4 linked regions of the Homo sapiens genome follow. The protein of the gene in region 1 interacts with the protein of each later gene in a pairwise test. Each region holds a gene or a part of one and is shown on either strand. Other genes may lie near its edges. The genes, in order: SH2D1A, ARHGEF7, SLAMF6 and ARHGEF6.

Region 1 (8,168 bases):
GCAGCATTATTCACAATAGCCAAGACATAATGCAATCAACCTACATGTCTATCAACAGATGAATGGATAAAGAAAATATGTTGTATATACACAATGGAATACTATTCAGCCTTAAACACAAAGGAAATCTTGTCATTTGCAACAACATGGATGAATATGGAGGACAGTTTGTAAAGTGAAATAAGCTATGCGCAGAGAAACAAATACCGCGTAGTTTCAGTTATACATGGGATCTTAAAAAGTTGAACTAATACAAGCCAAGAGTAGAATGGTGGGTGGCTACCAGGGGCTCGTAGGGGCGTGCAGGGTGGGGATTGGGAAATTTGGGTCAAAGGATAAAAGATTTAGGTTAGGAGGAAAAAGTTCAAGAGATCTATTGTACAACGTGGCAACTATAGTTAAAAACAATGTATTGTATTCTTGAAAGTTGCTAAGAGAGTAGATTTTAAGTGTTCTCATCACAAAATGTAAGTATGTGAGGTAATGCATATGCTAATTATCCCAATTTAGCTATTACACATGTATACATATTTCAAAGCATCATGTCATACACAATACATATATACAATTTTGCCAGTTTAGAAATAAATATATAAATTAGGGAAAAATAAAGGAATTATAGCAGAAACAATGGTTCAAAATTACACTTTCTATGTCAAAGGTGAAGGTTTACAATGTTAATGCTGGCTGGGCACGATGGCTCACGCCTGTAATCCCAGCACTCTGGGAGGCTGAAGTGGGTGGATCACAAGGTCAGGAGTTCGAGACCAGCCTGGCCAACATGGTGAAACCCTGTCTCTACTAAAAATACAAAACAAACAAACAAAAAACTGCTGGGTGTGGTGGCACGCACCTGTAATCCCAGCCACACAGGAGGCTGAGGCAGGAGAATCGCTTGAGCCTGGAAGGCAGGGGTTGCAGTGAGCTGAGATCACACCACTGCACTCCAGGCTGGGCGACAGAGAGAGACTCCGTCTCAAAAAATATAAATAAATAAATAAACAAATAAAATCTTATGCCAAAATTCAAAAATGTTAGAGTCTTAGGTTTTCCAGAAAACTTTAAGTATGTGGACTATGTTGACATAAAATGATAGCATGTGTAATAGCAAAGACTTGGAACCAACCCAAATGTCCATCAATGATAGACTGGATTAAGAAAATGTGGCACATATACACCATGGAATACTATGCAGCCATAAAAAAGGATGAGTTCATGTCCTTTGTAGGGACATGGATGAAGCTGGAAACGATCATTCTCAGCAAACTATCGCAAGGACAGAAAACCAAACACTGCATGTTCTCACTCATAGGTGGGAATTGAACAATTAGAACACTTGGACACAGGAAGGGGAACATCACACACTGGGGCCTGTCCTGGGGTGGGGGGAGGGATAGCATTAGGAGATATACCTAATGTAAATGATGAGTTAATGGGTGCAGCACACCAACATGGCACATGTATACATATGTAACAAACCTGCACGTTGTGCACATGTACCCTAGAACTTAAAGTATTAAAAAAAACACACACAAAACAAAAAATAAAAATAAAAAAATAAAATGACAGTATGTGTAAAAAGTGGGCACAAGGGGATGCCACTCTGATTACAACTATTCAAAACTGTCTGTCCCTGTGTGTATATAAACTAGAAGTAAATTTAAACTAACGTAAATGCATTCTTGCATGTTATTTTTTCATGTAGTTATTTAAGTGACTAATTTTTTAAGAAAAACAAGCAGAATTACAATTTGGAGCCTTACAAACCTAGCCTAAGCAAATCACAACTCATAAAAATGTAATTCATTTTTTTAAATTGTTACATCCCCTTCAGGATTATATTTCCTCTGACTCCCTCCCTTAATACAGACAAACCAGCAATGTAGTGTACTTTTAACTTCCTTCCCTCATTAAAGCTTTTTTGGACTTTTTGATAATCCTAGAGTTTAAAATGTATCACCAAAAAAATCAGAACATGAATAATTGTTAAAGAACGGTGGAGTTTTATCATTGCCTTTAATTTATTTTAATTACTATAAAGCATGTGTTAATCTAGTCTCTGCTGATATTGAAATTTGTCTTTATTTCATCAAAAGTTGTCCCTAACTGTAAAAAAGTGTCCAGGTTAGAAATGGACAAGAAGCAAGAAGCAACCAACCTGACTTATTTCTTATTTTCTCAGTGGGTCAGTGTTGGGGACAGATCCTGGTTTAGAACTGACAAATCCACATCAATTCCTTTTTTATACCACGTCAAGTACTACACAAAAGAAAACATTTAGCTACATCTGACTTCTTCATGACATTTCAAATAAAGCAAGCCAGTACCTATGCCCTCTACGTCTATACGAACTAATGCTACATACAAAATTCAAGACACAACTATAATGATTTTTAACAAACGTTTCAGAACTTTTATATCCAGAGGAATAGTATCCTACACAAAGCCATTATTTTTGAGACTATACTCTGATTCAAGAGCTTTCCAAACTTACAATGGCCCAAACTTTATTCTTTCAGAGAGAATTTTAATTTTTGAAACAGTTGAAAGTCATTCAACTTCAAGTGTGATGGTAAAACTATGTGATATTTTGATGAGTCATGAAAATAAATATAACCACTTCTTCCCCTGAACTTCCATATCAAGTTTTATTTACGTATACTTATGATGTTCTAACTTTGTATTACAATTATTTATAGAGCTTTTATTCATATTAAAAAACACATATTACATGTTAACTTTACAAATATTAACTCATGTCATAATCATCATAACAACCCTGTGAGGTAAGTACTCTCATTATCACCATCTGCCGTTTTACAGGTAAGAAACCTGAGACACAGAAAGTTAAAGTAACCTGCCCAAGGGAAAATAGCTAGTTAAGGGTCAGAGCTGGGATGCACACCCAGAGATCTGGCTGGAAGATCTGGGCTCTTAACCACCATTCTGTGCTGCCCCTCTCTTATACTAGAGGGAATGTATTAACAAATTGGTCTTTAAGACAATTCCAAAAGCACAATTCTCAAAAAGGGAGGGAATCTGCTTGGACATGGAGCTAGAACTGTCCACTGAGAGAAGGAGGGCAGTGGAGGGAGCTGAAGGGAAGAGGCCAGGTGGGGAGAGCCCGAAAGAGATCAACCCAGACTCCCCCTTTGCTTAAGCTAAATGACATCTTCAGGCTAATCTTGCAACTTTAATTTTACATTGTCAACCAGAGTCAGTACTTGGCTTATTTGCCGTGAATTATCCATTCGGTGGTTTATATGTGGCAAACAATCCTAGGCTGGCTTTCAGGCTCACTTTACCACTGGATTGTATTCAGGAAATTGAAAATAATGTTGGTGGCCTAAGTTATCATGAAGATAAATGTGGCACCAAGGCACATATCCAATTGAATTCAAAAACTAAATGCAAGTTGTAATTTCTCACTAAATGAAGTTAAGTTATAATTTCAAGTTCTTTGCCACACTGTTCCCCTTTATTGCAACTGATAAACTGGAATTTTATTTCATCACTGCTCCTCCCCCATTTCTCCAGTTCAGTTGTTTGACAGGCACTTTATTCCCAGTTGTCCCTTTAAAACTTAAAGGACAAAAAGATAATTATGCATTTATCTAAAGACATACATGTCAAATGACTTCATTATGTGTCCTTGAAGCTAAAGAATTATAACAGCATTTCTTCTTCCAAATCTTCCATCAGATAAGTAGCAAACAAAGGCAGATATGTCCAGAAGGATGCCAACTATGGAAATAAACTATTTTTTGAGCTAATTATTTTAAATATTTTAAATTAGTTCTCGTCTTATCACCATCAATCCCACTGGGCAGTCAGAACTTTCCCAATGGCTGTCTACATTGAGGGTGAGAAGGGAAGAAATGTGAGAGAACATATGTACCTCAGTGAAAAGAAACTTGATGTATCTAAAAAAAACAAAGGGAATAAACTTAAAAAAAAAACTATCTGCATTAATAAGAGCATTCAGTACACTGGATAAATACAAGAACAGAACATAAAATCAGTAGCTTTCCTATGAAACAGAAAATATAGTGGAAACAGATCCCATTTATGATTTTTAAAAATCAGCATACACATTCATACACACAATAACTCGAAATAACAAAAAATGTATAAGACATACAAAAAGAAAACTATAAAACTTGATTGATGGATATAAACAAAAAAATTATAAATGGAGAGACTTATGTTATGGGAAGGGAAGACTAAATTATTTAAAGATGACAATTCATTCTTAGTTTATTAATAAATTTAATGTAACCCCAATGGTGTTTTCAAAAAAATTTTTGATACATAATAATTGTACATATTCATGGGGTACAGTGTGATGTTTCAACACATGTATGCATTGTAATAATCAAATCAGGGGATTTGAATATTTAGGATATTTATCACCTCAAACATTTATCATTTCTATATGTAAGAACATTTCAAGTACTCTCTTCTAGCTATTTCAAAATACATAAGATATTGTTAACTATAGTCACCGTACTGTGCGACTGAACACTAGAACCTATTTCTTCTATCTAACTGTCTGTTTGTACCCATTAGCCAACCTCTCTTCATCGCCTTCCACCCTTCCCAACCTCTGGTAACTATCATTTTACTCTCTATCTCCATATGATTGAGGAATCCCACTACAGGGTATCTATCAAAAGGAAAGGAAATCAATATATCAAAGGGATACTTGCGCCCATACATTTATCACAGTACTATTTACAGTAGCCAAGATATAGAAGAGTCCAGCAACAGATGAATGGATAAAGAAAATGTGCTATGCATATACAATTGAATACTATCTGGCCATTAAAAAGAATGAAATCCTGTTATTTGCAGAAATGTAAATAGAACTGGAAGTCATTATGTGAAGTGAAATAAGCCAGGCACAGAAAGACAAATATCATGTGTTCTCACTGGCATGTGAGAGCTAAAACATTTGGTCCAATGAATTTTTTTTAACTTAATAAAATGATTCTAGATTTCATTTTGAAGAACCAACAGATAAGAATAGCAAATAATTTTTAAAATATATTAAAACATTATCATACTATAGTGCTATCAGTGCAAGAATAAATGGATCAATTGAGACAAATAGATAGTCCAGAAACAGTAACTGTTATATATAAGAATTTAATATATGGTAAAGTCGGCTAGCAAATCAATGAAGAATGGAAGTTGTATTTATAAATTATATTAGGACAATTGCTAGCTATCTGGAAACAAAATCAAATTAGATCTTTTATCCACATCAAAATACAACTCCAAATGGAATTAAAGAGGTAAATGTAAACTAACAAAACCGTAATTTAAAACAAAAACTGCAGTGAAGTTTTATGACATATCTCAAGGGGAAAGGACTTTCTAGCCAAGGAAGAAATCAAACACAAAGAAAACGAGTGACGTATTTGACTACTAAAAAGTTTGATTTTTGTATGTGTCAAAAAAAGTAAGGGCAAACACCAAACTTAGAAAACATACCTTGCAACAGATCAAGGATTAGTATATATATAAATTTACAATGTGTTAAAAAAGTTTGATTTTTGTATGTGTCAAAAAAGTAAGGGCAAACACCAAACTTCGAAAGGATACCTTGCAATAGATCAAGGATTAGTGCACATATATATATATACACATAGAGTGTGTTTAAAAAAAGTATGATTCAACTGGTTAAATGAGAAAAATACACAAAAAGCCAAATCATGGGAGGAAATACAACAGCTTAACAACCATATAAAATGACAGTCACTAACCAAAGGAATATAAAATGTGGAAAATAAAGAGATAGAGTGTAAATATAAAATAAAGAATAACAGGCCAAATGTCAAGGGAAAATTTTCTTAACTACAATACCCACTTCTAGTGAGGGTGTGGTGAAATGGACACTGATGCATTACAGGTGAGCATGTAAATTGGAATAACCATTTAGGGAAAATATCTCATGATCATGTATATATCAAGAATCCTAAGCTGTTTATGTTTTCTGACCTAGAAATTCCACACTGGAAATTCATTCTAAGGAAATAATCATAAATGCAAGGAAACTTTAATGTACTGAAATATACATCCTGATGGAATTTATAATAACAAAAATATGGAATGAGTCAAATGTCTAAAAGTAGGTGACTGGCTAAGCAAAATATGGTATACTTACTAGCTAGCTGGACTACCATGCAGCCATTAAAAATAACATCTTAAAGTTGTCTCTAAGAACATTACATATGAGTGTATTTTTTTCATATTAAGTGGGAAATGGGAAACGTATACAATTGTAAGAATACAAGAACACAATCATATTTTTAACACATGTAAATTTATATATAAATATATATAAATATATATTTATAATAATATATATAAAAATATATATTTATAATAATATATATAAAATATATATATTTATAATAATATATAAAAATATACATATTTATAATATATATATAATATATTATATCTTATATACAATATATAATATATTATATCTTATATACAATATATAATATATCTTATATACAATATATAATATATTATATCTTATATACAATATATAATATATTATATCTTATATACAATATATAATATATTATATCTTATATACAATATATAATATATTATATCTTATATACAATATATAATATATTATATCTTATATACAATATATAATATATTATATCTTATATACAATATATAATATATTATATCTTATATACAATATATAATATATTATCTTATATACAATATATAATATATTATATCTTATATACAATATATAATATATTATATCTTATATACAATATATAATATATTATCTTATATACAATATATAATATATTCTATATTATACTATATAATATAGTATATAATATACTATATATAATATAGTATATATTATATATTATATATAGTATATAATATATATTTATATATTATATATAGTATATAATATATATTTATATATTATATATAGTATATAATATATATTTATATATTATATATAGTATATAATATATATTTATATATTATATATAGTATATAATATATATTTATATATTATATATTATATAATATTATATATAATATATATTTATATATTATATATTATATAATATTATATATAATATATATTTATATATTATATATTATATAATATTATATATAATATATATTTATATATTATATATTATATAATATTATATAATATATATTTATATATTATATATTTTATATTATATATTTATATATTATATATATTAGATATTTATATATATATAAATATATAACATTTGGTGTTTGCCCTTACTTTTTTTGACGCATACAAAAATCAAACTTTTTAGTAGTCAAATACGTCACTCGTAAGAATACAATTGTAAGAGCACACGTGCTCAAAAAGCAATTCATCTTATTAAAATATAGAAGAAAATTCACCTAATTTTTAGCAATAGTCATCTTTAGGTTATAAAACTATAGATGATTTTTCTCTAATTTCTATTATCTATATGTTTCAAATTTTCTATAATGAATAGGTATAAGGAACTATTTTTAATAGACTTATACAAAAATCTATATTTATTTAGAGAAAGTAATTGAAAGAAATACTTATTACTTAAAATGAAGGTGAGCAATCCTATAAATGGAAAACTCCTTTAGTGCTTTATGAAGCAGTTCAATTTTCGATTTTCTAAATCAGAACAGAAGAAAAGGCCATATCTGAAAGCCATGATTAGGAGGTTCAGAACTGGGGAAAAGGGCAAGCATCGTTTGAAAGTACAGTTTAAAGTACAGTTTGAAGGCATATGAAATGTATTATCTCTACAATAAAAATATAAAAACTATAGCTCAATTAAATCTTCTTGGTTAATAGGAGTAAACAAAAGATAGAATGAGAAACCATTCTGAGTAAACCCTACAATCAATGCATGTTTGTCAGCTATACCTTGTTGTCCATGTGTATATGATACCACTTATATTGTTATTTCGACTGCATATCATAAGTGTTCTGGTTTAAAATGAGTACGTGGTTTATTTCTAAATAAAATCTGATTTTATAATTACAGTGTAGCACCAAAAAGAGGGAATGAAATTTTTACATTTATCAAAAGGGACACTCAACTCAAAAACATTGAGAAACTGATAAAAGGCAATGTATCCTCATA
Region 2 (8,427 bases), on another chromosome or scaffold:
CTCCAGAGCTGAGAGACAAATGCCTCCACATCCAGCACTAAGACCCGAGGCAGCGTCTGATTTTCAATTACATTCCACAAACACCTAGCCAGGGTTCTCGGGAGCACATCACATGGATTACACAGGAAGGTTCTCTGTGTTCTGTTCTCCTGGGACACACAGAGAAAGAACCAAGTTCCTTGAGTTTTTTATAGTGAGTTAAGAGACTTCATTTGTTGCATTCACAAGTGAAATTAAAAGAGCATTTCATGATTTCCATGATTTTAATGTGTTGTATTAGTCTTATAGAAATTTTCCATCCTCTACAATTCATGTATCTTGATTTCACCTCCTTTGACTAAATACCCTAGGGATGTTTAAAGTGAATTTGTGAGAAAAGGGCTTCCAGGGCTCCCTAGACGTCATGACCTCTGCTCACGGGAGGAGTGTGGGAAGCCGAAGACATGGGCAGCCCAGCCAAACATCCTGACCCCTCCTGGAGAAAACCAAAGTGCAGGATCTCCAGATACAGAGAAGGCGAAAACTTTTTAATCCCATTTTCCTCTCCCCTACAGCAGAAAACATCTGTCCAGTATAATGAAAAGTGTCTCTTTTCTGAACTGTTCATGTAAAGTTTATAATTCCATCTTCTCACTGTCTAACCTTCCACCTTAAAAGCAAAGCGGGAACCTGGGTGGAAAGTTTCCTTTAAATGAGCAGAAGAATCTGACACGCCGTGAACGTCCTCTCTGCTCCCTCCACCCTCTTCCTAACTCTGAAACAGAACAAATGAGCGTAATGGAAGAAACACATTAGGGCATGGTTTCTTAATAAAAGACATATGGGAAGCCCGAGGCACCCAGCCACGTTTTAGTTCTGCCCTCATCCCCAGCCTCATGGCCCATGCCAGGTTGTGAGCCTGCAGAGGCGAAGGCTGCAGGCCACTTGCCCTCCGCTCACTGGCTGTCAGGGCACTCCTGCAGCAGAGGTCAAGCGAAGCCCCTGTCATGTCCACATGAACATTCAGTTAAGTTTCCAAATGCTTCTTTTTAAGGAAAAAACATCCTCAGACTCACATTCCCACATTTAAGTAAAAGTTATTCAGCATGTGTGCTTTGTGGCATAGATTATCTGGTAAGCATGAAAACACCAAAAACCCAGATAACTGGCTGGGCGTGGTGGCTCACGCCTGTAATCCCAGCACTTTGGGAGGCCTAGATGGGACAATCCCTTGAGGCCCGGAGTTCAAGACCAGCCTGGCCAACATAGCAAGAACCCATCTCGAAGGAAGGAAGGAAGGAGAAAGAAAGAGAGAGAGAGACAGAGAGAGAGAGAGAAAGAAAGAAAGAGAAAAAGAAAAGAAAGAAAGAAACCCAGATAACTCTGCCTAGCAAATGGAAAAAGCTCACAAAACTTCTGAAACACAGGGATCTCAGAGGCAGAAAACGGCTAATATTTTACTCCAAAAACCTACCTTTGAACTCCAGAGAACCAGTAACTGTGTCTACAATACGCTGCCTTCACATTAAACTTTCATTGTGACAGAGTCAGTTTAACACAAACCAACTGGAGCTCAGGGGGAATCAAAAACAGCTCTGACCTAAGAAATTTCCAGATGACTGTAGTTTTAGAATATGTTGAGTTGTTTCAACTTGGCTTCTGCAAGCTCAACATTTTATTCGTTCTTCTCTTTGTTGTTTTAGAGATGAAATGAACGCTACGGTTTTCTAGGAAAATCTTTCTATAATTTAAAAGAAAATGATTATTGAAGTCGGCCAATCAATATTAATACAGTTAATATGCCAAACAACATATTCTTTGATGGCGACATGTTTTTATCAATACAGCATATGACACTTCTTAAAGCTTTGCTCTTAGGGATGGAACAGAATTTTATTTAAGCCTATTTTGGTGAACTTTGCATGCATTTCAACACTTTTCAACATCTGTCTTTCATTACCAGAGGTACCAGTATCCAAACAGCAAAGTATTTTGAATGCCTTGAAAGTCAGCTCCTGCTCCTCAGTCCTCCTGTCTTAAATCATAATTTCACTGTGACATCAGGTTCATTTTTAAGGAACATTTTTATTTCATGGACAGGCAGGCAGCCATTCACTCTAATATGCAGATTCTGTTTTCATAAAGATGTTCCAAGTAAGAAAAATAGCTAAAAGTGGAATGCAAGCCAAATTCATATTAAATAAAATGTTTTCTGACCTCATTTAAAATGTAGCAAGAGAATATGTACATGTGAATGAAAAAAATTAAACATTTTACTTTTTCAAGTCACTTACGTGGCATTTTATTTACAAGTTGTTGTCATCCTGTATGGGGGCCAATACACCCCACTTAAAAACTGAAATCCTTCTTCCTAATTATGGTACACTTCAATTTCTATATTTAACACCTTTTAAATAACTGTTGATCTTAACGCTATATATTGGCCACCCCCACCCCCACCCCACCCCCCGAAGAAACACCCTGGGAATAAGATTTTAGTATTTTGAGCTACAGGGAGACATCGTTTTTAGAAACTCTCCTGCCTCCTCGGCCCTGCTGGCCGGCTTGTGGGCGATGAAAACAAACTTTAATCACTTCCAGAGATTCGGGTCAGGGTTCACACGCTCCAGCCTGGGAACCACCAGCCGGAAGGGAGAAGCAGTGCCTGCAGGACTAAAGGTTCTGTTCAGAACGAGGGAGGGACCTGAGAACGAAATCTAGAATTTTAACAAGCCTTGAAGAGTGCCAGGACTTAGACCCTGTGTCTGCCGTCCTCTCGGCTCGGATAGGTGGGGAATTTTCTCGAGGGGAAAGTAGTAGATCGTTTCACAGCGCAGCCCTCAGCTACAGATGCGTGCCTCTTTAAAAATACAGAGCAACCGGTCAATTAACCTGGGAGGCGAAACTCACGCAACGCCACCGGCAAGAACTGTCCACACAAAGCCAGCGGAGTGAGCCGCACCGCGTCGGAACGCGGTTTCCGATGCGGCTGCTGCCAGGGAGCGGGGCCGGCCCCCCACGCGGAGGGGCAACTTAGCGTTCGGGCGGCGCAGAAGCCCCGTCTCCTCGCTGCGGTGCACTCTCCTTCCCGGGGACCCCCGCCGCCCGCGCCGCCCCTCCCCCCGACCCCGCTCCCCGGCCCCCTCCCCCTGCCCCGCACACAATGGCGCCCCCCGAGCTCCCGCCACGGTCCTGGCGCCGGCCGCGCCGCCGCTCCGCGCACAAAGGAGGGCGCACGGGTTTCCCGAGCGCGGCCGGCCTCAGGTGCTCCGCGCGCATCCCGGGCCGCAGCGGGCCGGACCGGGGGGCGCGGGCGGGGGCGCGGGCCGGGACTTACTTTCTCGATGGTCCCGGGGAGCAGGCGCTCCAGCAGCCTGCAGAGGACCACCCCATCCTTCAGCGACGCCTGCAGAAAGCCCTCCGGGTCCGAGATGGTTTTTTTGGGCGACTCCAGCACCCCCAGAGTGATGAGCCACGTAACGGTTTGCTCGGCGGAATTCATCGCTGCGGCCCGGGAGGCAGGCGGGGAGGGGCGCGCGCCTTCACCTCGGAGCGGCGGCCCGGCCCGCGGCCCCCGCCGCCGCCGCCGCCGCCTCGCCCATCGAGCGGCCGGCGCCGGCGATTGGCTCGGCGCGGCCCAGCAGGTCCGGCCCGGCCCGCTTCTCCGTGCGCCCCGGCCCGCTGTCAGGCGCCTTCTCAGGAGCGGCTCGGGAACCTGCGGGCGCCCGCCGCCGCCCCCCGGCCTCGGCCGCCGTCGCCCAATGACATCACCGCCAGGAGAAGAAAGACGCGGCCGTCCGCCCGGCCCGCGCCCGGCCCGCGCCGCCCCGCGCCCTGCGCAGCCTCCGCTCCAGGCCGTGCGCGGGGCGGCGGCGGCGGCTGGGAGCGGGCGGGGAAGGGAAAGGGGAAGGGGAGCGGGGAGCGGATGGGGAGGGAGCCGGGGGTGGGGGCGGGCGCGCACCTGCGCTTACCTGCCCCGGGCCCGCCGTGCGCCCCGCGCCCCTGGCCGGGGCACTCGGAAGCCTTTGTTTATGTTTTGAATTCGTGAGCGTTGAAATGATGAAGTACTTCCCAGAATGCTCTTTTTATTTTTGCCGGTTTTATTTCAAGGTGGCGGGGACAGGCTGAAAACGAGACGTTTGTTTCGCTTTGCTACCTTGCAAGCCGGTCATGACGGAACAGAAATGATGGTTCCATCTGAAGCCATATGGGTCTGAATCGGGAGGAACCGACTCTCCGGAGCGCGGCGCCGACCTCACCGGCAGGGCAGGGGCCTGCGCGACTCTGCTCTAGACGGACGGTGACGCTTCAGACCCTGCCGGGGGAAGGTCAAGGAAACGGCGTGGCCTGAAGTGGGGCTGTGCAGAGGGCCGGGCCGGGCCGGGCCGGGCGCCTGGCTGCGTCTCGGGGACGCCGAAGATCTGGGCTGTGAAAGCAGCAGGCCGAACCTGGAGAGCCCAGACGGCAAGTGTCGCGTCATGCGCGAGCTTCCTCGAACAACTGATGACACGCACACATTGACATGCGAGGAAGAAATGGAGCCTCTTCTTAAAAGGACACGAGTCTCCACTCACTCCATCCACTGTCCCTGGGCGCTCCCCCAGTTTGCTCGCTATGACCCGCGGGCAGTTTAACAAGCAAAGCACTTAGTCTATGCCAGGCACATACATTAATCCATTCAATGACAAAGGCTAGAAAGCATATAAAGCTTCCAAAAATAATCAGAGGCTTAAGTCGTCTCCCCCTGCCTTCTGCCGGTGGATTTCTCTTGCAATCACTAATTGCTTTTATTTCTAGCCTTGAGTTAAGTGGTTAAAATTTTCTTTGCAAATACAAAAAATATTCAAATGGCAGTATGAATTCTGGATTACGAGGACAATGTGCTCAGTGATAACAGCGACTGGTTAGGAACCGTCACAAAGTGCTGTCTACTGCCTCGCCTCCCATCATGGTCCCCTTTTACTGATCAGATGCCGAACAAGTGGCAGAGATAAGACCCAAAGCTCGGCTCCTACCAGGAAAGGCATACCTAACCCGTTTCCTACTGCTGCCCTATAAGCTTTCTAGGAAACAGGAGGGCAATTAACAGCTACATCAAGGCTTGTACCCAGTGTCTTCGTGGAAGGAAAGATGTCAACCCGGGGCGTGGTTGTACACCGAGACTTCTGTTCACTTTCCTTACTGCTGAATTAGAGAAATAATTTAATGCAGTCCTTACCATTTCGAATCCTACTAAATTCGGTTTGATACTTATAAGGTGGTAGACTTGAGTAAGATTCAAATAGACTCAATTAAATGGTCCTATAGAAAGCCAATTCTAGGGAGTGACCTTACGAGACCAGTGAAGCAGAGAGCCAATTCTTGTCGGACTGGAGACCCACAGTCCAGGTATTACAACTCGTCTTTTCTTGGTGGGGAGAAGCCCAGACTTTTAAACACTTTATGGTTACTAGTTGCGTTCTTTTATGTTGGGTATTTATTAATTTCAGAAAAAGAGTTTACTTGGAAGGGATTTTAGAAAGTAACATTGCTCAAAGCTAGATATTTTTAGGTGCTTAATTGAGTTGTTTTAGTATCCAAAGTGGGCATTTTGGTTAAACTTTCCTTAGCACTTTTCCAGGTTCCTATTACAGAGGCCACGCGGAGTGCAATCTGGTGCCCATCACTTTTGGGCTATTGGGTTAGCTCGAGTTAAGACTATTGTCTAAGGGGAAGTTTAGCCCTTTCTGTGGCTCTCCTCTGGACTTGCCTCAAGAGGTGGAGAATGGCTTTCCACGCAAGCCTGTGGCTTCGCTTCCTTCGTTTCTAATGAGAGAATGTCAGCCTCACACCCAGCTTGGCTGCTTGCTAGTGCCTGGTAGGCACCTTCCACATCACTGTTAGGAGTTCACGCACAAACCCTACTGCAAACCAGTTACCACCCAAAGCTCAGCTGAACCCTGCCAACTCAGCGTGTGTGGGGTCACTATAAAAATGCCAAAATCTAAAAAATAAGGCAAAATTCACTCCAAACTTAAGCTGGACAATCAGATGACCATTTACCTAGAGTGGGTAGTAATCACTCCCTGTAGAACTACCCTTATCCAACTGGACCCTGTCTAGATTGGAGAATGCACTACGAAGTGGCTCTATGCAGCTCATTGTATCTGCTGTGTGTTATTGTATGAAACAAGGTCCTGTTCATTTGGGATAAATATGATCAAATGCTAAAATTAAAAGATGCAAGGCAGGAAACATTAATTTATCAACACATATGGCTGGAGGAGTATGCAGGATCAGAAAGCATTTGACCAGTATAGTATATTATGAAACATGATGCCAACAAGACGCTTCTCCTGGTTGGGTTTCCCCCAGAAGCAGACCCTGAGCCCACAAATTGGGTGCAAGTGGCTTGCTAGGGAGTGACCCCAGGAAGGACAGTGAGGAAGGGGAGTGAAGCAGGTAAGGGAGTCAAGGGGTGAAAATGAGCACTAGGGCTCTGTTCCCCTGGGGGGCCCTTGAGAAACAAGTGGAACAGGTCTCAGCACCTTCTGGCCAGAGGGCAGGAAGGCTGACTTTACCCATGGACTCTGGATTGAGGGCTCCCCCACCAGTGACCTCTGATTCAGCAGAGCCCAACGTATCTTTTGGGGGACAATTCAACTGCAGGCATTAGCGTTATTTCATAAGCCAGCGCTTCCACCGCACCTGCTCCACATGCCAGTTCCGCACAGGTGAGCGGCACAGTCACTGTGATGGTGCAGAATGGGCGTGGGAGATTGCCACTCATGGCGCATCAACAATGGCATCTGTGACAGTGAGTTTTATGTGTCAACTTGACGAGGCTACAGGGTGCCCAGACATTTGGTTAAATATTATTCTGGGTGTGTCTGCGAAAGGGGGTTTTGGGATGTAATGAACATTTGAGTAAAGTAGATGGCCCTCCCCAATGTGGTGAGCTTTATCTAATCAGTTGAAGACCTGAATAGAAAAAAAGACTGACCTTCCCCAAGTAAGGGAGGATTTTCTCTGGTTCTTCAGCCTGTGGGCCCCCTGCAGAGCAGATGTGCCCACCTCCATAGTCACATGAGCTGCTTCCCTGTAATAAGTCTCTCTCCCCTCCCTCTGTCTCCCTTTCTCCCAATTGATCAGTTGGTCAATGGAAAGAGATTCTATTGGTCTGTTTCTCTGGAGAACGCTGACTGACACAGTGTCCTAAGGCCGTGCCATCTGGCTGGGGAGAGATGTGTCTTGGGATTCTCCCCCTGGGCATCTGCTTTCCAAGGTCCCCTCTGATACCATCTGCCTTGGTTTGTCCCCTCCTGTCCCCGAAGGCAGACCCTGAGCCAGGGCTTCAGTGCAGGCTGCCTATTTGGGAAGTGACCATGAAAAGCACAAAGGAGAAAATGGGACGATGGGACAGGGAAGGGGAGAAGCTAAACACAAGGCTGCCTTGTTGGCAGGTTATTGCTACGGGAACCTGGGCTGCAGTCCTACTGGGGCCTATGCATTTCTGGGAGAGGCCGTAACAAAGTCTCACAAGCTGGGCGGCTCAAATAAAAAGAAATATATTCTCTCCCATTTCTGAAGTTTGGAAGTCTGAAGTGAAGGTGTGGGCAGGATTGGTTCTTTCTGGGGCCCAGAGGGAGAATCTGCTGCAGGTTTCTCTCCCAGCTTCTGTGGGTGGCCAGCCATCCAAGGGAACCTCCTTGTACTGGGTATAAATCGCCCTAATCTCTGCCTCTGTGTTCACATGGACTTTTCTCCCTCTCTGTGTCAGTGTCTGAATTTCTCTCTTCTTATAAGCATGCTAGTCACTGGGTGAAGACCCACTCTGATCTGGGATGGCCTCATCTTGGCTTGATTGTATCTGTGAAGAACCTATTTCTAAATAAGGTTGCATTTACAGGTACTCGGAGTTAGGATTTCAACATATCTTTTGGTGGACAATTTTACTCCCAATAGTGCCCTTTGAGAAATCAGGACCCTGCCCCAGAAATATTACATGAGAGGAAGGGGAAGTGGAACTTACTATCATCACTCAGAAGGAACGTGGTGTCCTGGGATCTCTGTGATGCAGGATCGATTGGTGCATTCTGGTGTTACTATCCAGATCCATCCATTATGATTCCACCCATCATCATCTATTTGCTTCAGCAACTATTCATAATTCCTACTAGATTCAGTGTTTCATTCAGAATTGCCATATCTTGATAAGTCCTTCAGTTATATTTCAGCTAGAATTCTGCAAGAGGTACTGTTCTTTATCAGCTATATGTGTACTCTGAAACGTAGTTCCTACAGGAAAGGCAAGATAAATGCTCACTCATTTTCCATTGTTTACCACTTTTCAGCATCACGAGTTGGTGCTCCAGCATCCTGCAGAGGAGACCAGTGATTTTTCTGAATACCATTATGAATTCACAGACTTTGAAAAACACATTTGATACATTTCAATTTCTTATTTCC
Region 3 (8,168 bases), on another chromosome or scaffold:
CAGACTCAAAGATCAAAGCTAGATAAACTCAGGAAGATGAGAAAGAATCAATAAAAAATGCTGAAAACTCAAAAAGCCAGAGTGTCTCTTCTCCTCCAAATGATTGTAACACCTCTCCAGCAGGGCACACAACTGGGCTCAGGCTGAGAAGGATGAACTGACAGAAGTAGGCTTCAGAAGGTGGGTAATAATGAACTTTGCCGAGCTAAAGGAGTATGTTCTAACTCAATGCAAAGAACCTAAGAATCAGGATAAAACATTACAGGAGCTATTCATCAGAATAACCAGCTTAGAGAGGAACATAAATGACTTGATGGAACTGAAAAACACAACATGAAAACATCACAATGCAATCATAAGTATCAATAGCCGAATAGACCAAGTGGAGGAAAGAATTTAAGAGATTGAAGACTATCTTGCTGAAATAAAATAGGCAGACAAGATTAGAGAAAAAGGAATGAAAAGGAACAAACAAAATCTCTGAGAATTATGGGATTATGTAAAGAGACCGAACCTACAACTGATTATGGTACCTGAAAGAGACAGGTGAATGAAACAAAGTTGGAAAACATACTTCACGATATCATCCAGGAGACTTCCCCAACCTAGCAAGACAGGCCAACATTCAAACTCAAGAAATACAAAGAACCCAGTAAGATACTCCATGAGAGGATCAACCACAAGACACATAATTATTAGATTCTTCAAGGTCAAAATGAAGGAAAAAATGTTAAGGGCAGCCAGAGAGAAAGGCCAAGTCACCTACAAAGGGAAGCCCATCAGAATAACATCAGGCCTCTCAGCAGAAACTTTACAAGCCAGAAGAGATTGGGGGTCAATATTCAACATTCTTAAAGAAAAGAATTTTCAACCCAGAATCTCATATCTGGCCAAATGAAGCTTCATAAGCAAAGGAGAAATAAAATATTTTTCAGACAATCAAATGCTGAGGGAATTCATCCACCACCAGGCTTGACTTGCAAGAGCTCCTGAAGGAAGCACTAAATATGGAAAGGAAAAGCCATTATCAGCCACTACAAAACATACTGAAGTACACAATGAAGACCAATGAAACTGTGAAGCAACTACATCAATAAGTCTGCAAAATAACTAGCTAGTATCATGATGACAGGATCAAATTCACACATAACAATACTAACTTTAAATATAAATGTGCTAAGTGCCCCATTTAAAAGACACAGAATGGCAAGCTGGGTAAATTGTGAAGACCCATTGGTGTGCTGTATTCAAGAGACTCATCTCACATGCAAACACACACATAGGTTCAAAATAAAGGGATAGAGGAAAATCTACCAGGCAAATGGAAACCAGAAAAAAGCAGGGATTGCAATCCTAGTTTCTGACAAAATAGACTTTAAAGCAATAAAGACCAAAAAAGACAAAGAAAGGCATGGTAAAGGGTTCAATTCAACAAGAAGAACTAACTATCCTAAATATGTATGCACCCAATACAAAAGCAGATTCCTAAAATAAGCTCTTAGAGACGTACAAGGAGATGTAGACTCCCACACAATAATAGCGGGAGACTTTAACATCCACTGTCAATATTAGGCAGATCATTCAGACAGAAAATTAACAAAGATATTCAGGACTTGAACTCAGCTCTAGATCAAGTGGACCTGATAGACCTCTACAAAACTCTCCATCCTACAACAACAGAATATTCATTCTATGCATTGCCACATGGAACTTACTCTAAAATTGATCACATAATTGGAAGTAAAACACTCCTCATCAAATACAAAAGAACTGAAATCACAACAAACAGTCTCTCAGACCACAGCATAATCAAATTAGAACTCAAGACAAAGAAACTCACTCAAAATCACATAGCTACATAGAAATTGAACAACCTGCTCCTGCATGACTCCTGGTTAAATAATGAAATTAAGGCAGAAAGCAAGAAGTTCTTTGAAACCAATGAGAACAAAGAGACAATGTATCAGAATCTCTGGATGCAGCTAAAGCAGCTGTTAAGAGGGAAATTTAGAGCACTAAATGCCCACATCAAAAACCTAGAAAGATCTCAAATTGAAATGCTAACATTAAAACTAAAAGAACTGGAGAACCAAGAGCAAACAAACTCCAAAGCTGGCAGAAGACAAGAAATAACCAAGATCAAAGCAGAACTGAAGGAGATAGATAAAAGAAGAATGCTTCAAAAAAATCAAGGAGTCCAGAATCTGGTTTTTTGAAAAACTAATAATATAGATAGACTGCTAGTTAGCTAGACTAACAAAGAAGAAAAGAGAGAAGAATCAAATGGACACAATAAAAAATGTTAAAAGAGGATATCACTACTGACCCCACAGAAATAAAAACAATCATCAGAGAATACTATAAACACCTCTATGCACATAACCTAGAAAATCTAGAAGAAATGGATAAATTCCTGGACACATACACCCTCCCAAGACTGAACCAGGAGGAAGCTGAATCCCTGAATAGACCAATAACAAATTCTGAAATTGAGACAGTAATAAATAGTCTAAAAGAAAAAGCCCAGGACCAGAAGGATTTACAGCTGAATTCTACTAGAGGTACAAAGAGGACCTGGCACCATTTCTTCTGAAACTATTCCAAACAATTGAAAAGGAGGGACCCTTCCCTAATTCATTTTATGAGGCCAGTATCATCCTGATACCAAAACCTGGCAGAGATACAACAAAAAAGAAAGCTTCAGGCCAATATCCTGATGAACACTGATGCAAAAATTCTCAATAAAATACTGGCAAACCAAATATAGCGGCACATCAAAAAGCTTATCCACCCTGATCGAGTTGGCTTTATTCCTGGGATGCAAGGCTGGTTCAACATATGCAAATCAATAAATGTAATTCATCTCATAAACAGATCTAAAGACAAAAACCACAGATTATCTTAATAGACACAGAAAAGGCCTTCTATAAAATTCAACATCCCTTCATGTTAAACACTCTCAATAAACCAGGTATTGATGGAACATATCTTAAAACAATAAGAGACATTTATGACAAACCAACAACCAATATTATACTGAATGGGCAAAACTGGAAGCATTTCTTGTGAAAACCAGCATAAGACAAGGATGCCCTCTCTCACCACTCCTATTCAGCATAGTATTAGAAGTTCTGACCAGGGCAATCAGGCAAGAGAAAGAAATAAAGCATATTCACACAGGAAGAGAGGAAGTCAAATTATCTTTGTTTGCAGATGACACGATCCTATATCTAGAAAACCCCATCATCTCAGCCCAAAAGCTTCTTAAGCTCACATGCAACTTCAGCAAGATCTCAGGAAACAAAATCAATGCAGAAGTTACAAGCATTCTTATACAACACACACAGGCAAGCAGAGAACCAAATCATGAATGAACTCCCATTCACAATTGTTACAAAGAGAATAAAATACTTAGGAATACAGCTAACAAAGGAAGTGAAGGAACCTCTTCAAAAAGAACTACAAACCACTGCTCAAGGAAACCAGAGAGGACACAAACAAATGGAAAAATATTCTGTGCTCATGGATAGGAAGAATCAACATCATGAAAATGACCATACTGCCCGAAGTAATTAATAGATTCACTACTATTCCCATTAAACTATCATTGACATTTTTCACAAAATTAGAAAAAACTATTTTAAAATTTATATGGAACCAAAAAAGGGCTCATATAGCCAAGACAATCCTAAGCAAAAGGAACAAAGCTGGAGGCATCATGCTACTGGACTTCAAACAATACTATAAGGCAGCAATAACCAAAACAGCACGGTACATGGTACTGGTACAAAACAGACACATAGACCAATGGAACAGAATAGAGAACCCATAAATAAGACTGCACATCTACCACTATCTGATCTTCAAAAAACGTGACAAAAACAAGCAATGGGGAAAGGATTCACTATTTAATAACTGGTGCTGGGAGAACTGGCTATCCATATGCAGAAAATTGAAACTGGACCCCTCCCTCACACCTTATACAAAAATTAACTCAAGATAGATTAAAGACTTAAATGTAAAACTCAAAACTATGAAAACCCTAGAATACAATCTAGGCAATGCCATTCAGGACATAGGCATGGGCAAAGATTTCATTATGAAATCACTGAAAGCAATTGCAACAAAAGCAAAAATTGACAAATGGGATCTAGTTAAACTGAAGAGCTTCTGCATAGCAGAAGAAACTATTATCAGAGCCAAGAGGCAACCTACAGAGTGGGAGAAAATTTTTGCAATCTATTCATCTGTTAAAGGTCTAATATCCAGATTCTACAAGGAACTCAAACAAATTTACAAGAAAAAAATCAAACAACCCCATTAAAAGGCGAGCAAAGGACATTAACAGACACTTCTCAAAAGAAGACATTCATGCAGCCAACAAACATGAAAAAAAGCTCAACATCACTGATCATTAGAAAAATACAATTGAAAACCACAATAAATTACCATCTCATGACAGAATAGTGATTATGAAAAAGTCAAGAAACAACAGATGCTTGTGAGGTTCTGGAGAAATAGGAACACTTTTACACTGTTGGGAATGTAAATTAGTTCAACCATTGTGGAAGACAGTGTGGCAAATCCTCAAAGATCTAGAACCAGAAATACCATTTGACCCAGCAATCCCATTTCTGGGTATATACCCAAAGGAATATAAATCGCTCTGTTACAAAGATATATGCATGCATATGTTCATTGCAGCACTATTCACAATAGCAAAGGCCTGGAATCAACCAAAATGCCCATCAATGACAGACGAGATAAAGAAAATGTGGAACATATACACCATGGAATACTATGCAGCCATCAAAAGGAATGAGATCATGTCCTTTGCAGGAATGTGGATGAAGCTGGAAGCCATTATCCTCAGCAAACTCATACAAGAACAGAAAACCAAACACTGCATGTTCTCACTTGTAAGTGGGAGCTGAACAGTGAGAACACATGGACACAGGGAGGGAAACAACATGCACTGGGGCCTCTTGGGGAGTGGGGTTGGGGGAGGGAGAGCATTAAGAAAAATAGATAATGCATGCTGGGCTTAATACCTAGGTGATGCGTTGGTAGGTGCAGCAAACCACCAGGGCACAGGTTTACCTATGTAACAAACCTGCACATACTGCACATGTACCCAGAACTAAAAATAAAAATTAAAAGAAAGAAATGTATTAATTAGTTCCCCCAACAAATATTTTCTGAATATCTGTAACTATGAATTCCATTAAACTTACTCTTCAGGTGTTAAAAAAAAAAAGAAGACATTTATGTGGCCAAGAAACATGGAAAAAAGCTCAACATCACTGGTCATTAGAGAAATGCACATCAAAACCACAATGGGATACCATCTCACACAGGTCAGAATGGCAATTATTTAGAAGTCAAGAAAAAACAGATGCTGGCAAGGCTGTGGAGAAATAGAAACTCTTTTACACTGTTGGTGGGAATGTAAATTAGTTCAACTATTCTGGAAGACAATGCGGGGACTCCTCAAAGACCTAGAGGCAGAAAGACAATTTGACCCAGCAATCCCATTACTGGGTATATACCCAAAAGAATATAAATCATTGTTATAAAGATATGTGTATGTGCATGTTCATTGCACGTGTATCTTCATTGCAGCACTATTCATAATAGCAAAGACATGAAATCAACCCAAATGCCCATCAATGATAGACCGGATAAAGAAAATGTGGTACGTATACACCACGGAATACTATGCAGCCATAAAAAGGAATGAAATCATGTCCTTTGCAGGGACATGGATGAAGCCAGAAGCCATTATTCTCAGCAAACTAATGCAGGAACAGAAAGCCAAACACCGCATGTTCTTTAAGTGGGAGCTGAACAATGAGAACACATGGACACAAGAAGGGGAATGACACACACTGGGGCCTGTCGGGGGTGGGGCAGGGGGGAGAGAGAGCATCAGGAAAAATAGCTAATGTATGCAGGGCTTAATACTTAGGTGAGGTTGATAGGTGCAGCAAACCACCAGGGCACATGTTTACCTATGTAACAAACTTGCATATCCTGCACGTGTATCCTGGAACTTAAAATAAAATGATAAAAAAGAAAAAAGATAAAAATAGGTAAATTGTGCTTCATCAAAATTAAAGACTTTTGTGCATCAAAGAACATTATTAAGAAAGTGAAAAGACAACCTACAGAATGGGAGAAAATATTTTCAGGTCATGTATTAAAGGTCTGGTTCCAAGAATGTATAAACAACTCTTATAACTCAATAGCAAAAAGACAAATAATTCAACTAAAATGGGCAAAGGACTTGAATAGACATTTCTCCAAAGAGGATATACAAATGGCCAATAAACACTTAAAAAGATACTCAAAATCATTTGTCATTGGGAAAATGTAAATCAAAACCACAATAATATACCACTTCACACCTATTAGGATGGTGATAATAATCTTTTTAAAAAGGAAAAAAACAAGTGTTGATGAGGATGTGGAGAAATTATAACTCTTGTACACAGCTAGTGGAAATGTAAAATGGTACAGCCATTGTGGAAAACAGTTTGGCAATTTCCCAAAAAGTTAAGCATAGAATTATATGATCTGACAAATCCATTCCTAGGTATATACCCAGATAAAAACAGGTAGTCAAATACTTGTACACATAGCAGCACTATTCGCAAGAGCCAAAAGGCAAAAACAACCCAGGTGTCCACTGATAGATAAATGGATAAATAAAATGTAGTATATACAGAATACAAAATACTATTCAGCCAAAAAGGAATGAAGTACTGATACATGGTTCAGCATAGGTGAACCTGGAAAACATGATGCTAAGTGAAAGAAGTCAGACACGAAAGGTCATATATTGTGTGATTTCATTTATATGAAATTATCCAGAATAGGTAAACCCACAGAGACAGAAAGCAGATCGGTATTTGCCAGGGGCTGGGGGGGAGGGGAGAATGGGAAATGACTGCTTAGTGGGTACAGGGTTTCCTTTTGGGGTGATGAAAATGTTTTAGAATAATAGAAGTGGTGGTTTCACAAAATGTACAAAATGTCACTTTAAAATTATTACATCCTGTTACAAGAATTTCACCTTAATAAAAAATGTCTGAGTGTGAACAGAGAAACAATCAAAGCTGAATCTGGGTTAAGGGACCAAAAACAGAGGCATGAACACCTGGAGGTCACATTGGAGATTGCAGATTCTGAGAGGTGGAAAAACACGTGTCTGAGGATAATGAAAAAATATAAAACAGCTCTCTGCCTGTTGAGCACAATAAACATTTGAAAGATGTGGACGGTTGGTAAAAAGTAGATAACACTGCTCGGGGGCCATCAGGTCACAATCTCTTCACAGAAGAGCATTGCACATTTTGACTCAACCTCAGAATCAGCCCTCATGTGTTTGCTTTACTTACATTTCCAACCACTGCTCTCTCCTGGACCTCAGAATACCTATATCTGCTTCCTGCAAACACACTCAAAGTTAGTTTCTATTTCTTCCTCCCTACAATCCCAGTATGACTGAAGTCCATTGGAATTTAGAACCTTGCTGCTTAGTGTGGTCCATGGACAGGCAGCATTGGTGTCACCTGGGAGCCTCTTAGAAATGCAGAATCTCAGTCCCTATTCCCCAATCAGCATTTTAATAAGATTCCCCCAAGTAATTTATATGCACATTTAAGTTTGACAAATTTCCAACTTTCCATCTATAAAAATCAAAATGAAGAAACAAACGAGATTTATTTTCTCTAGGAAGTCATGATGCTTGATTTTATTTACAATTATTGTTTTGTTCTGTTAGTTTTGCCACCCAGGGCTTGAGTTAAAGGAAATGGGATTATTTTTCAATATGGTTTGTCTTTTCCACTAAATTTTCTAAAAGGAGTCAGGATAGTGCCCAACCCACTTCAAAGAATGTAGGCTGGCATGAGTCATTGTTTTTCATGGTTGTTTCAAAGATTAATTTCATTTGCCCCACATTTTTGCAACAGTGGTCTTCTTTCCCTTCCTAAATCACTCCAGGCTCTTTCCTGCATCACGGCTTTTCACACATGATTCCCTCTGCCCTAAAATCTTCTTCATTTGACTTTTCCTGTTTAACTTTTCACACCCTTTAAATATCAGATGAGATGTTACTTTTCCAGGAAGTCCTTTCTTCATCACTCCGTCCAAAGCAGGTCCCC
Region 4 (8,168 bases), about 12 Mb from region 1:
GCAGCAAATATCACTTTTATAGTTTGGACTCATAGCTTGGTCCCATAACACTTTACTAATTTGGTTCAAATTGATCAAAATGATCCCAAATGCTGAATTAAGTCTGCTTCATTGGCAACTCAACTACAATGAAGTGGCTCTTGTTTGAGATTTGTGTACATTATTAACAAATCTAAAGGATTATCATAATAATCATTAAGGTAAACCAGAGGCACTTCAGGAGGAGACTGGGAACACTCAGGCAGTGCACATAGATCCTGTAGATATTCAGTACATATTTGCAGATGGACAATGGGAAATGGAAAATTAAGAAATCAAACAAATCACTGAGTCTGGCAATTCAAGACTGACTCACATAATACCATCTATCTTAAATTCTAGCACATTCCCACAGAACTATTTGTAATAAGCTACGAAATTAACTTGTCAGAAGCATTTTATACCATAGGTAGCAAAATTACCTCTTTATAACCTAGTGCTGCTGATGGTCTAAGTGGAGGTGCAGGTCGTAGACAACTTAAACTCCACGGTTTTATAATTTGAGGAGGCTCCAAGGGTCCTCGGGGCTGTCCGGTAGAGCTAAAAGACTGGGAAAATGTCTGATGAGATGTTGGCAATCTGCCATCTGAACCCGACCTTGTGCCACACAGTGAGAGAACAACAATAGCTTCATTGGATTAGCAAAGACAGCCATAGAAAGGGATAGATGGAAAAACAAAAGTCTCTAGTTTGAGAACTGGTTCTTTCCAGTCCAGATTATCGGGTCTCTAAGAAACAGCACAAAATTGACTCAACATTCCATGATCCTGTCCTCTCTTTCTCATCTGGAATTTAATTAATTTAATTTTCTTTCCTCTGTAAGGAAGGAAAATGGAGTAGCAGTCAACATTTGAGTTCAGTGATATGTTTGGCACTCTAGTAGGTGCTTAAATAGGTTATTTCATGAGAACAGCCTAAGACATAGACTCAGTCAAGGGAAGCAACTAACTAGTAATTGGCAAAGCCAAGATTTGAACCCAGATCTGAAGCCAAAGTCCATATTCTTCCAACCACAACACACAGTCCTCAAAACTGGAATTTTGGCATCATAGGTTTGTATGTTAACAAACAACACAGCATATCTTCCATCTCACTCAGCAAGTACAGTAAAATCTCATCAATTCAAATTCCAATGTCTAAATTTGTGATAACTCAGAAGGAGATAATGCTAAAAGTTTACCTTTGAAGAAGGTTACTGAGCAAATGTGAGAGCATGAGTGAGATGACATGGAGATGTTTAAGTACTTAGGGAGGTAAACTATTTGTTTCGACTTAGCCCACTGTTAGTAGGAGAATAACCATTGCTCATGGAAATAAGCCTTGCTTATCATTAAAATATTTTAGCAGGACTTCTGGTTAGAAATACTTTGCTAGCAGTTAGTTGGGGTATCTGAATACTGTCAAACAGAACTGCACACTCTAAGTAAACCTTTTCATTAATTTGGATGGGCCTCATAATGAGAAATCAGAATGAGTGAGGTTTAACTGTACTTCAAAATCTACAAATATAGGCTGCCCAAAAGACTAAGGGTGTGCTCGCTGCTTCTTGTAAGTCTCCAGCAGGCAGGAGTTGACGAAAGACTCAATAATCTCTGGACAGAACACATGGACTACTTACAGAATGAGCACTACATGATGACGATGAGGTTTTGGATAATGAACTGCAAGAGGCAGGTCCTCTGATCAGTCTGTTCAGCTGCTCCAACCATTCCTGGAAGTCCTGGTTGTTGTTACAATGGACCACAATTCTCTCCACTGTGTTACCTACATCCCCCAATTATGATCAGTTTGAAAACAAAAGGCAAGGAAAAACTTGAGCTTGTCCCATTCATAAATAGACTTCATACAACTAGGACTTGGGTGTGTATTTTCAGGGGTTTTCATACCTATGGGATAACCCTGCTGAAATTTCTATATCAGAAACAGATAACCTGTGATTACAAAGTAAATAAATATTCATGTCTGATTTAGAAAACTGTCCTTGATTTTTACTGCTTACAGAAGCTTAAAAGTAGTGTAAAACTTCACCATAAACAAACTTGCAATCCAAAAACATAAGCACATAGTCCATCTAGTTAAGTCTAAAGTGGGAATATTGTCCTGGTTCCCCTGGTATCAAAGTTGGAACAAGATCCAACTAAGACTATTTACAACCTTTTGGCAAACACCAAACCTTAAGCTCCTTCTTGGGAAAGAAGAGGGTAAGGCCATGATCCCAGTCTTAGCCACTGTGCCATATCAGCACCAACAGTCAGGCCACTACATATAAATGACACAGACCTGGCAAAAGGGATCATAAGCTAAAATGTCAGGGGGCATTACTGAAGCCTGGCATTATGCTCAATTTGTGAAGAAAATTTGATGGCTTTTCAGAACTTTTTAGAAATACAACCAAATCTTACTAACTCATGGGCTGATGATAAAATTGCTGATAAAAGTCCATATCTTTGGCTCCTCTGCCACCAGGGAACAAATGACAGAGGGGAAGAAAATTGCGTTTACATCAGTCCATTTCGTTATTCCTTAGCTCTCACAAGTAGCTCTCATGCAACAGAAAATTGAAACTAATGGCAAAGCCATGGCTTTTGAATGAGAGGAGACTTCTCTGTGCTATTGCTGTACCCTAATTATCCCAGGAAATGGAATATACTTTGCCATGCCCGCATAAAATTTGCTCGTGGCCTATGTAACAGGAAATAATGGCATTTATTTATTAAATTCCCCTTCATTCCAAAAAGAATTGGAAGTAGTTACATGAAAAAGAGAAAATTACCTACCAGTGATTTCAAATGTGCAGTCATTCCCTTCAATTTCATCTAATCTAGTCACCACCGTTCCTGCTATTGGTATTTTTCCCTATTAGAAAAAGAACATTCTCATTAATTCTGCAGTTATACAGGTCTCTGTTTATTTCACTTAGATTTTCTGACCCTCTCAGCAAGGCAAAACTATGGCTAGACGTATTTCTCCAGTCTGTCAATAGATAATATGTTTCCCTGCTCTAAATTTTAATCAGACTAAGAAAGCAAGGGGAAAATGTGGATTGTGTTTGGCTAACACACCCTAAACTATAAGATCAGGATTTACAAAGCAGTTTACTTTTCTAACACATTTTCATAAGAATCAGTAAAAAAAAGTGAAGGCTCAGATGTTATGAAAATTATTAATTGCCAGGCCAAGATGGAACAGGCAATAGTAACTTATAATACTCTATATGTTGGGAGCTGACTGAGGGACATTTAATTTCCTAAGGAGTTTAATAACATGCTTCTTAGAAGCCTGAATCATGTGCTGTGACTATAATAAGACAAACATAGGAGCAGGTCCCAGCTTTATGTTTTCTCAGCAATAATGACATGGGCCTGTACAATACTGCTGCTAATTTATCTAGTTTCCATTTATGCATGCAAAACCTAGTGCATAACTAAAGCGGTGGATATATTCAAGATAAACTCATTATACTAATACAAAGGTCTTTGATCTAAGGAACATCTGCTCTTACAAGCTCTTTAATTACAATGAAGGGTCAGAACATTCTGGTTCTCCTGGCTTGAGCTTTTAATGCCATAGTGGAGATATTGCATCTGGATGGAAACCTGTTTTCGTTAGGGGGTCTGCTATGTGTTTTATATGAAATTTACTAACCTGATAGATAAAGCCACTCATCCGAGGACTTGCAGATAACATTATCAGGACATTTGAAAATAACATAAGGTACCGCTCCTCTTTTTCCTGAGAGGGAATGAAAATAATACATGAAGAACAGAATTGGACACTTTATCTGTTGAGAATTTCTGGAATCACTGCCTTATAACATAGACCTTATATAAACAACTGAAACATTAACGGTAATTTTTTTTTTAAAAAAGATACCCAACTTGAAAACACAAAACTAGTTGAATTTTACTTTGACATGGACATAAACCCACAGTTTATCTCTCTTCTTCTTATACATAACAATTAAATACAAATAACCATGCTTGCTTTCCATGTATGAAAGCCTGAGAAGTCACCACAGTTTATGCAGCCAGTGAGATGTGCTAGACCTGGGCACAAAATAAGTCTCCAGGTTCACAAAATGAAAATATATTTTACTTTGAAAAAATGGCAAGATGAAGGGGTTTTCAGGTGATAAGAGATTTAGTATGCTCTAACATGTTTGTTAAAGTCGTATTCATAAAATTAGCTTTGGTCATTAAGAACAAGATAATTATTGGATTTATGTAAAACATAAAAGTAGATACACTTTCTTTTTTTTTTCTTGAGACGGAGTTTCGCTCTTTTTGCCCAGGTTGGAGTGCAATGGCACGATCTCGGCTCACCACAACCTCCACCTCCCGGGTTCAAGCGATTCTCCTGCCTCAGCCTCCCAAGTAGCTGGGATTACACACATGTGCCACCACTCCCGGCTAATTTTGTATTTTTAGTAGAGATGGGGTTTCTCCATGTTGGTCAGGGTGGTCTCAAACTCCCGACTTCAGGTGATCCACCCACCTCAGCCTCCCATACACTTTTTAATGGCACTGAGGAAACCTTGAAACGTGAGGGCTGCTGTGAGCCCCTTCAACAGATATGCAATTAGTATACGCAAAAATTACGTTTGCCTTCCATGCCCAGCCATCTTAGCTACAATTATCCTTATGCCTGTCTCCATCTCCTTCCTTCCATTTGAGAAGAGCAACCCTTCCAGGCTAACTATTCTAACAAGTGCTCCACATTCTCTCACATCTTTGTTTCACTTAGTTTTCCTCTACAGACACCTCTTCTTCTCCCAGCATCCTCTTCTCTTTTACTAGCTGTTCCTCTTTTTCTTTAACATATGTACACCTCCTATCCTAACAGACCTTGGCTTGCCCCCATGTGGCCCTTTATGCATAATATCCCATTTCTTGACATTTTATTGGCAAATTACTTGCTGCCTTCATTTTCTCTGCATTGATCCATCCCTAACTGCACCCCCATTGCTCTTGGAAAGTCATCAGTAACTGCCTTCTAGCAAAATCCAATGGCTTCCTCTTGGTCTTCACATTCCTTGCCCTCTGAACCTTCAGCAGCAGTCAGCACACTGGCCATTTTCAAATGCTCCTCGTGGAATTTCCATGACACCATGCTCCCCCAGTTCTTCTCTACCTTCCTCTTTGTCTTTTTATTTTTTCTGGCACTGATTCCTCCTGCCTTCACCCAAGGGGTTTATCCCAAAGGTGTGAATGACTAATAGTTAGACTCACTGCAGTAACCTTCCCTGGGGTATTTGCATTTTAAATGAGATTGCTTATTAACCCAAAGTAATGAATCTCCGCCAAAGACGTGTCAGAGAGCGTAGGAAGATGTTTTGGGAGAAGGAAGACAATTCTAACACCCGATACATCAAACCAGGTGCCATAATCAACCTTTCTCCCTTTCCCTGGCTCCTTCCTAAAAGAAATAATCCATCTTCAGCTCCCCCCACCCCCCGGGCTTCTCTCTGGATATTTACTTCCTAGGAAGGCACATCTGTTAGGGACATCTAAGTCTCTGCCTCTAACTCTGACCTCTCACTCACATTTCCATACTACATTAACAGCTGCCTATGGGACATCTCCACCCAGATATCTACAGGTCTAAAATTATATTCTTCATCTCCTCTAACCCAGGGGCACCACTTCCTGTTGGCTTTCCCTTCTAAAGATGCCTCCAATTTGCTCCTTCTGCTCCATTCCCAGTGTTACCACCGTCTTAGGGGACTCCTTCTCACTTTCCATCCCAGCTGGCCTTTCTGCTTCTCGTCCATTCCCTCCAGTTCATTTGACATATATAGGTCGCAGATTAGTGTGAAACATCCCTTTCGGAGTGTTGTTCTATGACTGTGGACTCTTTCATTATTTCCCATGGCCTGTTGCATCCATCTGAACTACTCTTGCCTGATGTCAAGCTTCTGCATAGTCTAATTCTACCTGACTCAATCAATCTTTTACTAGGGCCAAGTTGCTTCTTTTGCTCCCTACAGGCTGGTTTCCTTACTGTGCTGCAGCAAACCAAAGCCACATTTCTGTTCTCTCCTAAGATAACAATGACCTCTGCCTTGCGAAATCCTCCCCTTTTGTTTTTGTGCCCCCTCCTCAAGTCCTGTCTCCGTAAGGTCTTCTTGATCTCTCCCTCCTGTGAACTTCTATGGACTCTTGTTGAGATTGCAAAATCGAACATTGACTATTTGGTTTGTCAGCTAGTTGCAACTTGTGTTTTAGTCTGTTTTTAATGAGTTCTTTGAAAACAGGGATCATTGCTTGTTCTTTTCTCCTATCTCCCACAGCACCTAGCAGAATGTTCAACAAAGAACAGGTGCTCAGCTTCTGATTTGAATGTTGTAGCATTTGACTTTGATGGAAGAACAAGGAAGAAAAACTACTTAAGAGGCTCAGGCAGGAGGATTGCTTGAACCCAGGAGGCAGAGGTTGCAGTGAGCCAAGATGGCACCACTGCACTCCAGCCTGAGTGACAGAACAAGACTCCGTCAAAAAAAAAAAAAAAAAAGGAAGAAAAATACGAAAGATGGAAGAAATAATGTTGAGATTTGAAATACCTTACCTCACATGCTCCATACTGCACCATTACTTGTGACATAAAAATCACATTTCCCAAGTTTTTAATATCTTCTCCTTCCCATGCCTGAATAGGTTCGGACAGTATCTGTAACTCCAGCTGTTTTCTCTTCCTCAGATCTTGACATTGCCCCTACAGAACCAAAGCAGAACATAATGGAATAGGAATTCTTATGAAATAGACTAAAATAAGACCAAAGTAAGATGTGGCTTCTGACTCTTTGGTTCCCACTGAGTCCCTATTCCTCATCATGAATCCCATGACCCAGGCCTGTTCTTGATAGACAGAAAGATCCACTACCCTAAATCTCTAGGCTTGAGCCCCCAAAGGTTTTGTGAGGAAGGCCTATTTTTCATTTTGCCAAAGCATCAAAACATAATGCTAGAAAGAGCTTATTTCTCCCTCCCTGTAAAGAATATGGGAAAGCAAGCAGCCAAATCACACTGACCAGAGCCAGGTGAGGACCTGGTAGATTCAGATCTACTGGTTGGTGCCCCTGCTTTAGCTCCTCTTACCTTGTCTATCTTTGCATAAATAGGGCTTTAGTGACAAAATAATTGTATTTCTAACATATGCTCAATTTTCAACAAGGTAACATCTTGAAAATAATAAAAAACAAAAAATTTCTCCTGGAGTTATAGTGAAAGAGAAAATTAAATTCTTTATGCCACAGTGAATCAAACTTATAATGAAACCTAGGCACTGCTGTACTTTGTTTAAGGACCAAGATTGCTGTGAAAAAAATACTAAATTAGTTTTTATTCCTAAAAGGATTGGAAAAAAGAGATACAACTGAATTTCATGATGACATACTGAAATTTCAAACCAAGAAAAAATTACAGTTTGCCAACACTATGTGGGGTATGAATACTCTTTCTATATATATGTGTGTGTATGTGTGTGTATATATATATATATATATATATATATACACATATATATATATATATACACACATATATATATACACATGTGTATATATATATACACATATATATATATACACATATATATATACATATATATATATATATATATATATATATCTCACTGCTTAAGAAACTGTGAGGTTATCTTAGAGTAATTTAACAGCATGCCTTCCAAATTGAATACAAAAATAAGCACATGGTTAGTTCTGTTACTGTTTCCAAATGAATGTAAGATAATATTTTGGGGTTATATTTTCTATAAAATCTCTGCTGTCCCTTTCAGCTACATGGAAACTCAAAGAAATAAATTCACTGTACACATATTTTAAGAGCACCTATAGTAGGAATAAATATACTAAACCATCAAGGCAAGTTATATAATATAATCAGAAAGAAATACAGGTTTTTAAAAAGACTCATTTTACATTCCTATTTATACAAGAAAAAATAGAAGAACCATAATTATAATAAATGCTGTGGGTTTCACTGGGCTGTTCTATTAGCTTGCGCCATGTAAAACTGCCAATATTGGACTGTTTTTGGCATATAACAATGGCAATTTTAATCTAATACTTACTCTGGTCTTCAACTTACTGTTCAACTACAGACACGTCAATTACT

Evidence for each region.
Region 2: the proteins of SH2D1A (region 1) and ARHGEF7 interact in binary tests that used the Homo sapiens proteins (3 or more experiments, as listed by UniProt).
Region 3: the proteins of SH2D1A (region 1) and SLAMF6 interact in binary tests that used the Homo sapiens proteins (3 or more experiments, as listed by UniProt).
Region 4: the proteins of SH2D1A (region 1) and ARHGEF6 interact in binary tests that used the Homo sapiens proteins (3 or more experiments, as listed by UniProt).

What each region holds. Positions count from the first base shown.
Region 1 is NC_000023.11:124,349,276-124,357,443, reverse strand, and holds part of SH2D1A (SH2 domain-containing protein 1A), read right to left. Parts: intron 1-8,168.
Region 2 is NC_000013.11:111,110,581-111,119,007, reverse strand, and holds the start of ARHGEF7 (rho guanine nucleotide exchange factor 7), read right to left. Parts: upstream 3,699-8,427; 5' UTR 3,482-3,698; coding exon 3,317-3,481; intron 1-3,316. UniProt on the Homo sapiens protein: Acts as a RAC1 guanine nucleotide exchange factor (GEF) and can induce membrane ruffling. Functions in cell migration, attachment and cell spreading. Promotes targeting of RAC1 to focal adhesions. May function as a positive regulator of apoptosis.
Region 3 is NC_000001.11:160,512,865-160,521,032, forward strand, and holds part of SLAMF6 (SLAM family member 6 isoform 1 precursor), read right to left. Parts: intron 1-8,168. UniProt on the Homo sapiens protein: Self-ligand receptor of the signaling lymphocytic activation molecule (SLAM) family.
Region 4 is NC_000023.11:136,679,074-136,687,241, forward strand, and holds part of ARHGEF6 (rho guanine nucleotide exchange factor 6), read right to left. Parts: intron 6,751-8,168; coding exon 6,604-6,750; intron 3,772-6,603; coding exon 3,685-3,771; intron 2,896-3,684; coding exon 2,817-2,895; intron 1,804-2,816; coding exon 1,658-1,803; intron 600-1,657; coding exon of another isoform or gene 588-599; coding exon 462-587; intron 1-461. UniProt on the Homo sapiens protein: Acts as a RAC1 guanine nucleotide exchange factor (GEF).